Linked DNA regions of Homo sapiens: region 2 is linked to region 1. The links come from fine-mapping of genetic effects on gene expression. A gene starts in region 1. The other region holds a variant in brackets. All regions are shown on one strand. Distances are from middle to middle.

Region 1 (5,379 bases):
TAGCAGGATAAAAAGCCATATATAATTGGCATTATACCAATTATGTTCAAACATGAGTATAAATTTAAAAAGAAAACCAATACAATTAAACAAAAACAATTTTTTTTTTTTTTTTTTTAGACAGGGTCTCACTCTGTCACCTAGGATGGAGTCCAGTGGCACAATCATAGCTCACTATAACTTCTGGGCCCAAACAAATCTCCTGCCTCAGCCTCCCAAGTAGCTGGGACCACAGGCACATACCACTACACTTGGCTAATTTTTTTCTTTCCTTTTTTTGTTAGAGACAAGGTCTCACTATGTTGCCCAGGCTGGTCTCAAACTCCTGGCCTCAAGCAATCCTCCCGCCTTGGCCATCCAAATTGCTGGGATTACAGACGTGAGCCACTGCACCTGGCTCAAAAACGAAATTTTAAAGTAGATCCCTCTAGGTTGTGGAATGGTGGGTGATGTTTATTTTTAAAATTGCAATGTACTTTCTAAGTTTTTGAAAATGAACTTATTTTCTAGATAAACAAAAATTTAAGCAAAATTTTTTTATGACTATCTGTTAGTGAGGTATATAGACCAAGAAAAAAAAAACTGTTTCCACTTAAAAGTCCAGTTCTTTTATGACTCCCTTTAAATCCCATTGGTTAAAATTCCTCTCAAGGGTAGAAACATCCTTATCAAAAGCAGCAGTGAAGCCAGTGCCAGGGAGACCATCTTCCTGTGAATCCCATACACCGTCAGGCTGACACATGATTCCAAAGGCCCAACTAATTCTTGAACTCCTCTCCATCTGGCCCTAAATCACTCCTTCATTCAAGAGCCCTTTAATAAACACCTATATGGTAGGCTCTGTGCTGGGGGTGAGGGCAGAGAAGAATGGGTCTCATGCGTTCTCTCAAGTGCTCACAACTGTCAAACCCACAATGCTAACACAATTATACAATTATGATTGCAGTACAGTGGGATAAATGTCGAGGAGTCAGCACAAGGCTTTGTGAGAGTCTGCAAGAATGAACCTAACCTGGTCTAGGGCTGAGGGGGTGGTGCACAGTCAATGAAGTCTTCCCTGAGCCTTGAATAATGAGGAGGAAATCACTAAAGTAACGAAGGAGTTTTGTGGATGCTATTGTCTGAATGCTGTGTTCCCCAAAAATGGTGATGTGGAAGCCCTATCCCCATTGAGATGGTATTAGGAGATAGAGCCTTCGGGAGATAATTGGGTCATAAGAGTGGCTCCCATGAAAGGGATTAGTGTCCTTATGAGACTAGACACTACAGAGATGGTCTCTCTGCATTGTGAGGATACAGCAAGAAGACAGATCTCTACAAACCGAGGAAGAGAGCTATCACCATGCACTCAACCATGCTGGCACCTTAACTTTGGACTTCCAGCCTCCGGAACTGTGAGAATTAAATTTCTGTTGTTTAAGCCACCCAGTTTTTGCTATTTTTTTTTTACAGTAGCCCAAACTGAGAGTGTACAAAGGCATAAAAGACAGTAAAGTGTGTTGAGAGAAACATACGTAGATAGTTGAGGGGAGAATTAGGTTCATGGCTGAGACTGGAAAAAGGGGGTATGATCTAACAGTAATACGCTGGGGAGAATTTAGCAAGGCCTATTTGTTCTGATTCTTCTCTGTGTACCTGTGTCTTCAAAGATAAGGGCATTCCTTTCCTCGATCCTATACTTACAGGATGAGCACCTCTCACTGAAGGGTCTTATACAGAAGAAGGTCAAACAATTCTTTTATGGCCTGCTTCAGGGGAGAAAAGTGGGAAGACACAAAGTGACTTTCCTGCTTCAGTTGTTTCCTCTAATGCCAACGAGTCATATTTTGCGGCAGTGTGTCCTGAATCTCATCAACAGCGGAGTAAAAATTGGAGTGTCTAGAACAGGGGTTCTCAACCTTTAGTGCAGAACTTGTTAAAAACACAGAATCCTGGGAACTGCCCCTTCCCGCAAGAGTCTCATTTGTTCTGGAATTAAGCTGTCATCTTCACTTGTTAACAAGTACTCCCATGTTGGTTGCAATGGAGGTCACCACTATACCAGACTTTGAGAAACAGTGGTTTAGAGATAAAGGATTGAAGACCAGGTGGGATTAGAAAAGACCTTGAACCCACACTAAGGACTTTGGCTATTATTTTGAAGACAATGAAAAACCTTTAATGGGCTTTAAGCAGGTGAGTGATATAATCATATTTGAACTGTTAAAAGACCACTTTATAGCAGAATGAAAAATGAACTGGAAGAAGCTAAAATTAAAGCTAAAGAGAACCATTAGGAAGTTATTGCCATAATCTGTAGGCTCCTAAAAGAACAAACCAAGATAAAGGATGGATTTGGAAAGCTTTAGAAAGTAGAAATTGGCAGCAGTTGGTGGTCCATTGACTGTAGTAAGTGAGAGAGGAGGAACCAAGCCAGGTTTTTGTGCTTGGGTGACTGGTTGAATAGTGATTTCAGTCATTTAGATTTGAGTGGTAGGTTTGTGGAGAAAAGTAGTGCGGTTTAGGAGATACTGAATTTGACACGCCTGTGGAGTATCCAGGTGGAAATGTTTTTCTTACTAGATAGTGAACCCCTCATGGGCAAGTTCGTCTATCCATCTGCAGCACCAGAACCTAGTAAAGCGCCAGAATGAATGAACCAACCAACCCATCAATGGATCTGATACTATTGGCCCCATTTTGCAAAGGGCTATGCTGAAGCCCAAGGGACGAAGTGAGGGGGGTCCACAAGTTAGCGACAGCTCTGGGACTCGAACCCAGGACAGCTGACTCCCGCCGTGACCACGGGATCCGCGCGAGGCCCTCCCCTGCCGCGCCGGCCAGGCCCGCACCCCCTACCCTCAAGCCGCGCCGCCGCCTGCACCCACGACCCCTGATGCTTGGGTCCCCGCGGCTCTCGGCCCAGCGCGACTCCAGAGGCTCCGCCCAGCGCCCCGGGCCCCCATCCCGACTCCCACCCCGCTCGCGCGCTCAGTCCCAGCGACCCGCACTGCGCTCCCCGCCTGGGCGCCGCTGCACTCACCACGGCTGGTCCAGCTCGCGGCTCTGCCTTTCCTGTGTGCTCCCTCCAGATTCCCCGGCTCGTTCAAGGGAAACCGCTGCCGCCGCCCTCGGGTTCCGCCGCGGGGCTGCGAGCGCGCGCGGGCCAGTTCGGGCCGGGGGCGGGAACCGGCTCGGATGCTCAGGGACGGTGGGGGTGGCAGGGCCCACCGGCTTGAGGCTGCCTTTCCCGGCGTTCCCTCGTTTATTGGCTCACTCTTCCTTTCATCCATCCATCCTTTGCGCAACAATATTTGATGGGAAGCCTGCCAAGGTAACACTGTTTTAGCACCTGGAACTAAGTCGGAAAATAAATTAACTAAATGAACAAGGCCATTGGAGATGGTGCTCCGTGCCACGAAGAAAATGAAACGAGGTGATGGAAGGCAGTGCGGGAAGGGGGAGAACTGTGTGAAATTAGGCGGCCTGCGCTAGGCCTTCTGAGTAAGGGGCCATTGGTCTGAGACCTGGATGTCAAGAAGGAGCAGCTGAAGCAAAGATCCAGGGGAGAGAGCCTGGAGAGGGAAGGGCCCGTGCAAAAGCTGAAAAGCCTGGGGCACTCTGGCGAGTTGCAGGCCAGTGTGGGTGAGACAGAGAGAGCTAAGGAGACAGGCCAAGCGAGGAAGCTGGAGAGGTGGAGACAGGCCACGGCGGCCAGGAGTTTGGACATGACATTAAACAGGGCGAGAAGACATTGCGGGGGTGCAATCAGGGGCTGGTGGGACTGGTTTCCATTTCACACAGCTCTCTGGCCACAGGTGCTTGATTGGATTCTAGAGAACAAGAGAGCAACGGAGAAGCTAGGCCAATGCCAACCTCCAGACAGTTTACATTCTGTACTCGCCCACCAGATTGGTGTGGGGACAAAGCCAGGTCCTTCTTCTTTCCAGCATTCAGTCTGCCAACTTTTTTTTTTTTTTAGACAGGGTCTCACTCTGTGGCTCAGGCGCTAGTGCAGTGGTGCAATCTCAGCTCACTGCAGCCTCTGCTTCCCGGGTTCAAGCAATTCTTGTGCCTCAGCCTCCCGAGTAACTGGGATTACAGGTGTGTGCCACCAGGCCCAGCTAAATTTTTTTGTATTTTTAGTAAAGACGGGGGTTTTGTCACGTTGGCCAGGCTGGTCTCGAACTCCTGACCTCAAGCGATCTGCCCGCCTTGGCCTCCCAAAGTGCTACGATTATAGGCATGAGCCATCGCACCCGGCCAGTCAACCAACATTTGAGTGTGCACTAGGCCCTGCATCAGGCACTGGGGGTATGCTCAGGTACAAGGCCCTTCATGGTTCCTGCCCCATGGAGCTTGCTATCTAGTCTGCACATTTCCTACGTGTAGACATGCATCCTACCTATGTCTCCCTAGGTGAATGCTTCAAAAAAAAAAGGCCGGGGCGGGGACCTTCAATGAGGCTATGGTGCAGTAAACATATTCCTTATGCCAGGGTGCACCAATCCATTGGGCCACACTGTTTAGTAGCAAGAAATTTCTAGCCCTCTCTCCTGAGTCTCCATCTGTAAACTAGGGGACTGAGAACATTACTATTAAAAAAAAACCCTTCTAGCTCTAAAATGTTGTCATAGGGTATGGAAGACCATTATTTTCAGTTCCTCTTTTCCAACTATCTAAAGCGTTTGTGTTTGGAAATAAGCTTCTGAACTGCTCACCTGCAGGCTAGAAAAATCTGAGACTTGATTTTGATGTTCCAAGGGTCAGACTCAGCGTATGCTTTAGGGCTTCAGCATGAAAGTGGTTCCCCAAATAAGAAAAGGTCAGCTTTGATGAAGGATGAAGAAGGATGGAAATATAGGAGATTAAGGGAATCTGAATACACACCTGCAGGCAGATGTGTAGGTTGGAGTTTTGGAGACCTATACCAATTCTACTCTCTTCCAAATACCATTTTACTAGGATGCATTCAGATTCCAGAATAATCAGGCACAAGCTCTAGCCAGCCCTGAATGGGTTCCTGCAGCCCAACAGAAACCTGACACTCTGACTTAGGCAGCCCCAAGAACTTCTGTTAGGCTGGGCGCAGTGGCTCAAGCCTGTAATCCCAGCACTTTGGGAGGCCAAGATGGGTGGATTGCCTAAGGTCAGGAGTTTGAGACCAGCCTGGCCAATATGGTGAAACTGTCTCTACTAAAAGTACAAAAATTAGCCAAGCGTGGTGGCAGGTGTCTGTAATCCCAGCTACATGGGAGGCTGAGACAAGAGAATTGCTTGAACCTGGGAGGCGGAGGTTACAGTGAGCCGATATCGCGCCATTGCGCTCTAGCCTGGGCAAGAAGAGCAAAACTACCTCTCAAAAAACAAAACAAAACAAAACAAAACTCTTAGTCAAGG
Region 2 (5,379 bases), 110 kb after region 1:
ACATTATCATTATTCTTACCCAATCATTATCTAATTATTCATACCCAACGTTAATCACATGTCCACATTGAAATAATGGCTTTAAATCAAACGTCCAATTCTCAATAAATTCTGATCTTACTCCCTCCCCTGGAGGCCCTGCCAAAGTTTTTCAAGGTACATTCTCTCTTATCACAGAAAGCAATTGTCTTATTAACAGCTTTTCCTGATTAACAGGTTGTGTTCTCAATATTTGGGGAGTAGCTTTTGACATAAGGAAAGAGGCACACATGCTTTGTGTGATTATTCAGTCATCAAAGGCAAGCGGTGGTCTTAAGCACAGCAGACTGGTTAGGGAGAAGGGGGTTTACAAGCAGAATAGAGACGAGATCTGGTTTCTTAAGATCTCTGGGAGCCCCTGCAGCAAAAGTCTATGGAGTTCCGGGCTCAGGGCATTTAAGCGTGGGACAATGCTAGAGGCAGAACTGGCTTCATGGGCATGTGATCTATGCAGTCGCCCACTTGCTTGGATCCTCTACTGTTGCTGTCCTGAAATTCTTAATCATGTTTGAACGAGACATCCTGGGTTTTCATCCTGCACTGGGCCCCACAAATTGTATAGCTGGTACAGGCTAGATGGTGCGGCTGCCCCTGCAACACCTTCAGGGGGCACATGCCAGCCCCTAACCCTGCTCGGGCTTCTCCAGATATGGACAGACACAGCACCCCACTCACTGGAACTGGGAGTGGCAGGTGGTAGAGAGGCTGACATAGCCAGAGAGGTTGATAAAAGTCACACGGTATCAAATGATTGCCCAGGAAAGAAGCCCAGGGCAAGCTGTGAAACAGATAGAGAGCAGAGCAAGCAGAATGCGGATGGACGCCCCTCAGTCCATCAGCCCCTGCCCACGCCTCTGAGGCCCTTAATGATCTGCTCTTGGCGGAGTCATCTCTGTCTCATTCTGCTCCCATCACGGTCATCCTCTCACTCAACTTCTTCAGACCCAACAGGCTCAGTCCTCTCCCAGGCCCCTTCTCCTTGCTGCTCATTTTACCTGGCATGATCTTGCCCCAAGTCTTCTTATGGCTTCCTGCCCCCTACATTCAAGCCCTGTTCAAACATCACCACCACTGATAGGCCCTCCAAGCCCTCTCTAACAACAGCCATGCCCCCATCTCTATCACCTTCCCAGCTTTATTTTTCTCCATAGTTCTTATCACCTAACATCGCACTATATTTTTATGGCACTTGCTTTTGGTCTGTCTCTCCAACTTGAACGTAAGCTTCCTGAGGACTTTATCCTGCTCTTCCCTGTATCCTAGGTGCCTCGACAGTGTCTGGCACATAATAGGCAATCAGTATTTATTGAGCAAACAAATAAATGAATGAGTACGGGTGATCAGTCGGAGAGACATTACCTGTCTAAAGATTTCTTCTTTTTCATCTCGATGGCATGTAGTGCGTTTGTGTGGCATTGGTAGTGATGGGATGATGCTGCTCAGGGCAGTGTCACTAAAGGTGGTTATTTAAAAAAAGAAGTACTTCAGTAGCTAAATAATAATAATAACTTAAAAGGTATTCAGCACAATGCCAGGCATTGTTGTGAGCCCTTCACATGTATTAACTCTGCAAGTCTCATAGCTGTGCCTGAAGTGTGTCCTGTTATTGGACCTCTTTTATAGATGAGAAAATTGAAGCAAGGCATGAAAAATGGATAAGAAACTTTCCTAGGGCCACATGGCTAGTCCAAGACTCTTTTGGTCCTGGACTGGTTCTCCATGACAAAACCATAATTCCCTCTTCAATTGGGTGATTCCACTTAACTAGGACTCTCACCCCCAATCAAGAGGCAGAGAATGGAAGACAGCTCATGTGCAAGTGTAGACAAGGGTTGGCTCTTCCCAAAGAAACTCTCTGAGATGCCTTCACCAACCATCCTCCTTTGCATTTCCTTCCAGGGGCTGCTCTGTCTTAGCATTTCCATCCAGAAAGCCAATGACAAAGACTCCTCCTGCTCTGGCGAACATGTGGCACTGTGGCTTTCCTGAAGGCTTGGCAGGCGAGTGATGGGGAATTCTGACAAGGCTTTTAATTGCTGACCAGATTTGGATTCATCTGGATAAGGCTGCTCCCTGTTCTCTTCTGAACCCCACATCTGTAGAAGGGGTAGGTCCCATTGGGTGGCAAAGGTGAAACTCCTTTGGGTCTGCCCCAGCTTCAGTGTGAAAATGAGGCCCTCCTGCTGCCTGGGTTACTGAAGTGGTGCATCCTGGCCACTCATTCTACGTGAGGTACATTAGGTAAACCCGGATGTTATTTCCTAGTCCTCCTGACAATGTGTCTTCTCCCTCAAATGTCTTTTAGTGACATGACTTACCCCCTCCCTGATTTGTTTTAATTGTAATCATCAAATGCTAATAAATATTGAAATCTGCACTTTCCAAGAGGCAAGATACGCTCCAGGGTATGAAGTAGTTTGTGAGTCTCTAATCAGGATTTTGAAAGAAAGATTATAAGACAAAAAGTCAAGAGATGAGTTGTGATGTTCTAGTGAAATCTCACATAAAACTATAAAAGCAGATTGGCAGGGTAAGAAGATGGGTTTTATGCCAGAGTTGCCCTTGATTCACCATGATAGCTCACAGATACTTCTCTGCCTATTAAAATGGACTTCACTTAGGCTATACATGTAACAGTAACAGCACCATTTATCAAGGGTTTATTGTAAGCCTGTCTCATAGTAAGTCATTAGCTTACTGAATATATTCTCCCTCCCCAAAATATCTAACTTATATGGTCCTTTTACTCCATGTCTCCCCTCTCTGACCTAAGAGTCATGAAGTTTGAGATATAATGCCTCCTGAACTTATATTAGGTTTGTGCAAAAGTAACTGCCATTTTTGTCATTACTTTTAATTACTTTGAAACATCATCCTAGCATGTTTCTAAGTACAGCAAGCTAGGAATAACAGTGGGGAAAGGCTGGTGGGGAAACCTGAATGTTGTTCTATAAGATCCCTTAAATCATTTTACTGTCTAAAAGAAACAGTCCTCCAGGCAAGATGGCCATTGCCTTGGACTTCTCATTTTAGGCTTGTATATTTTCAGAATGCCCAGGCCTCCATGAAGGTCTTTGTCTAGCAGCAGAAGAGTGTTATGCTGAGTGTCTGGGGGTTCATCACACAGCTGAACTGCTCTCTGGTGAGCTTGGTGGAGCGGGTATAGATGCCAGACATGTGGCATCATCGGCTTGCAAATCACTGCAATCACTCACACATAATAGCCTGAGCTTCTTTAGGGCATTCTCTTCATTCCCCCTGACTGACTGGGAAGGTATAAAAGGTCACACTGATCACAGGTGGTAGGAAAA[G/A]AAACTTTAATGATTTCCTTTTCTCATTACCACCCGTGCCCTTGGTTCTGGCCGCGGTCTCCTCCATATGCCCCTTTGTGCTTTGTGAAAGGAGGGAAGGGAGAGAGGGAGACACAGAGTGAATGACACATACTGGCACCCACTTAGAAGCCCAGAACCAGAGTTGTGCTAGTGTGGGAAGAAGCAGGGGCTGTGGGGCCCCTGCTTCTTCAACACGGGGTTGAACATGGGAGATCTTCAACACGGGGTGCCAAAAGCAGGGGCAGGGCTGGGGATGCAAGAAAGCAGGCTGGGTCCCAGGCTGGGCTCCAGCTCTCATCTGCCACTCACTGGCCAGGTGACCTAGGACAACTTGACATGACTACTTTTACCTGGTGACGCAAGGAAGTGGAACTGGTTGGTCTCTAAAGTCCCTTTTATTTTATATCTATGAGTCCAAGTTCAAGACAGAAAGCTCTTCATGAATTCAAGTGTAATTCATACTCTATCTCCAAAAAGAATTTGAGATAGTTTATAACAGAAGTAGATCCTTGGACTGTTCAAATAAAGACAACAAGAGGACAAGAAATCTTGTGAAAGGGGAGATGATTAGAATAGGAACAGAAGATAAGATGGGGTATTTTACTGAAGAATTGCTGCTCTATTGAGACAAAACCAAAATATTTTGTTTGTTACACACAATTCACTTTTCCTATATATTTGTTCCACAAATATTTATTAAGAGCACAGACATTGTTCCCGACATTAGTGATACCTTAGGGAAGGTATCCCTTCATGAAAGCAGACAAAGTTCTGGAGATCATGGAGCATATATCTAAGTTCAGGGAGAGAGACAGTGAACAAATCCAGAATGTTAAAAACATTTCAGATACCTAGCACCCAATCACCCATATCTTGGTTTCTGATACCTTTCTCTAATAAAAGGAAACAGAGCTCCTTGAAGAAACGGCTGATTCTAGGTCTAGGGCAGGAAATATATAAGATAAGCCTGCCAAAAACTAAGTGCTCCAACAAGCAAACAATAAAAAAGTAGTCAAAACCAAAACCCACATTGATGGGGGTATCTCAAACAGGCACAGGAGCCAACAGAAAGCTCTCCCAATGGCCAAAGCTGTACCAATGAGAGCAACAAAAGAAGGTAGTATTGGATTAAACCCAAAGTGTAAGATAAATGCTCATCAGTCCACACTGGTATAAATGACTGAATAAATTAATAAATGGGGGAGAAGAGACAGACCTCCTCCCACGCAGAAGAATTCCAAATTAGATAGCTACTCCATCCTACAGGAGCATCTCCATCGCAGCACTCCATCTTCACGCCCCATTCCTCAAGCGTGGGCTGCATGTGGTGACTTCCTTCCGAGGAAGTCATGGGAAATGGGGGAAAAATAATTTTACAGTGTGGAAACTTGAGAAACACATGATCAGGACAATATCAACAGTCATAAATCATGTTGAAATGATGTGATGAAAATGGCATTTTACCTCTTTCTCCCCAAAACCCCTAACCCAGTCTAATCGTGAGAAAAACATCAGACAAGTTTCAATAGAAGAGCATTCTACAATATGCCTGACTAGTACTCTTTCAAACTGCCAAGATCGTCAAAAACAAGGAAAGTCTGAGAAACAGCTACAGCTAAGAGGAGCCTATGCAGACTCGAGAATGACGTGCAGTGTGGTGTCCTGAACGGGATCCTAGAACAGAAAAGGGCATCAGGTAAAAACTGAGGGAATCGGAGTCAGCTGGGGCCGTTGGCTAATAATAATGTACATATTTACTCATTAGTAATAACAAATGTATCATAATCATGTAACATGTTAATAATACAGGGAACTGGATACAGTGGCAGAGGATACTATGGGAAGTCTACAATCTGCTCAATTTTTCTGTAAATCTAAAACTGTTCTAAAAATAAGGTCTATTAAAAATCAAACAAACAGAGGGTCTAGAGGTCAGAGATGGAAGAAGTCAGAGATTCTCTCTCTTGCTGGCCTTGAATAAGCAAACTTCCCTGAGTTCTGCAGCTGC

Alleles and levels. Alleles are on the strand shown, and positions count from the first base shown. SD is a standard deviation of normalised expression in the study named.
For the expression in caudate of the gene that starts at base 3,113 in region 1, allele A in region 2 goes with a higher level than allele G (large effect, 1.0 SD a copy in GTEx).

What was found. PIP is the estimated chance that this variant, and not a neighbour inherited with it, causes the effect.
Region 2: its variant is fine-mapped to the expression of AGK-DT in caudate (GTEx, PIP 0.97).

What each region holds. Positions count from the first base shown.
Region 1 is chr7:141,549,078-141,554,456 of GRCh38, reverse strand. AGK-DT (AGK divergent transcript) reads left to right here and starts at 3,113. Exons shown (of 6, transcript NR_183408.1): 1 at 3,113-3,313. It overlaps AGK (acylglycerol kinase), which reads right to left and starts at 3,047. Exons shown (of 16, transcript NM_018238.4): 1 at 3,023-3,047. RefSeq lists silencers at 2,803-2,982, 3,163-3,252.
Region 2 is chr7:141,443,017-141,448,395 of GRCh38, reverse strand. All of the region lies in intron 3 of TMEM178B (transmembrane protein 178B), which reads right to left. Among named protein-coding and RNA genes, the nearest start is that of AGK-DT, 110 kb to the left of the region's middle. The variant G/A (reference allele first, on the strand shown) is at 3,351.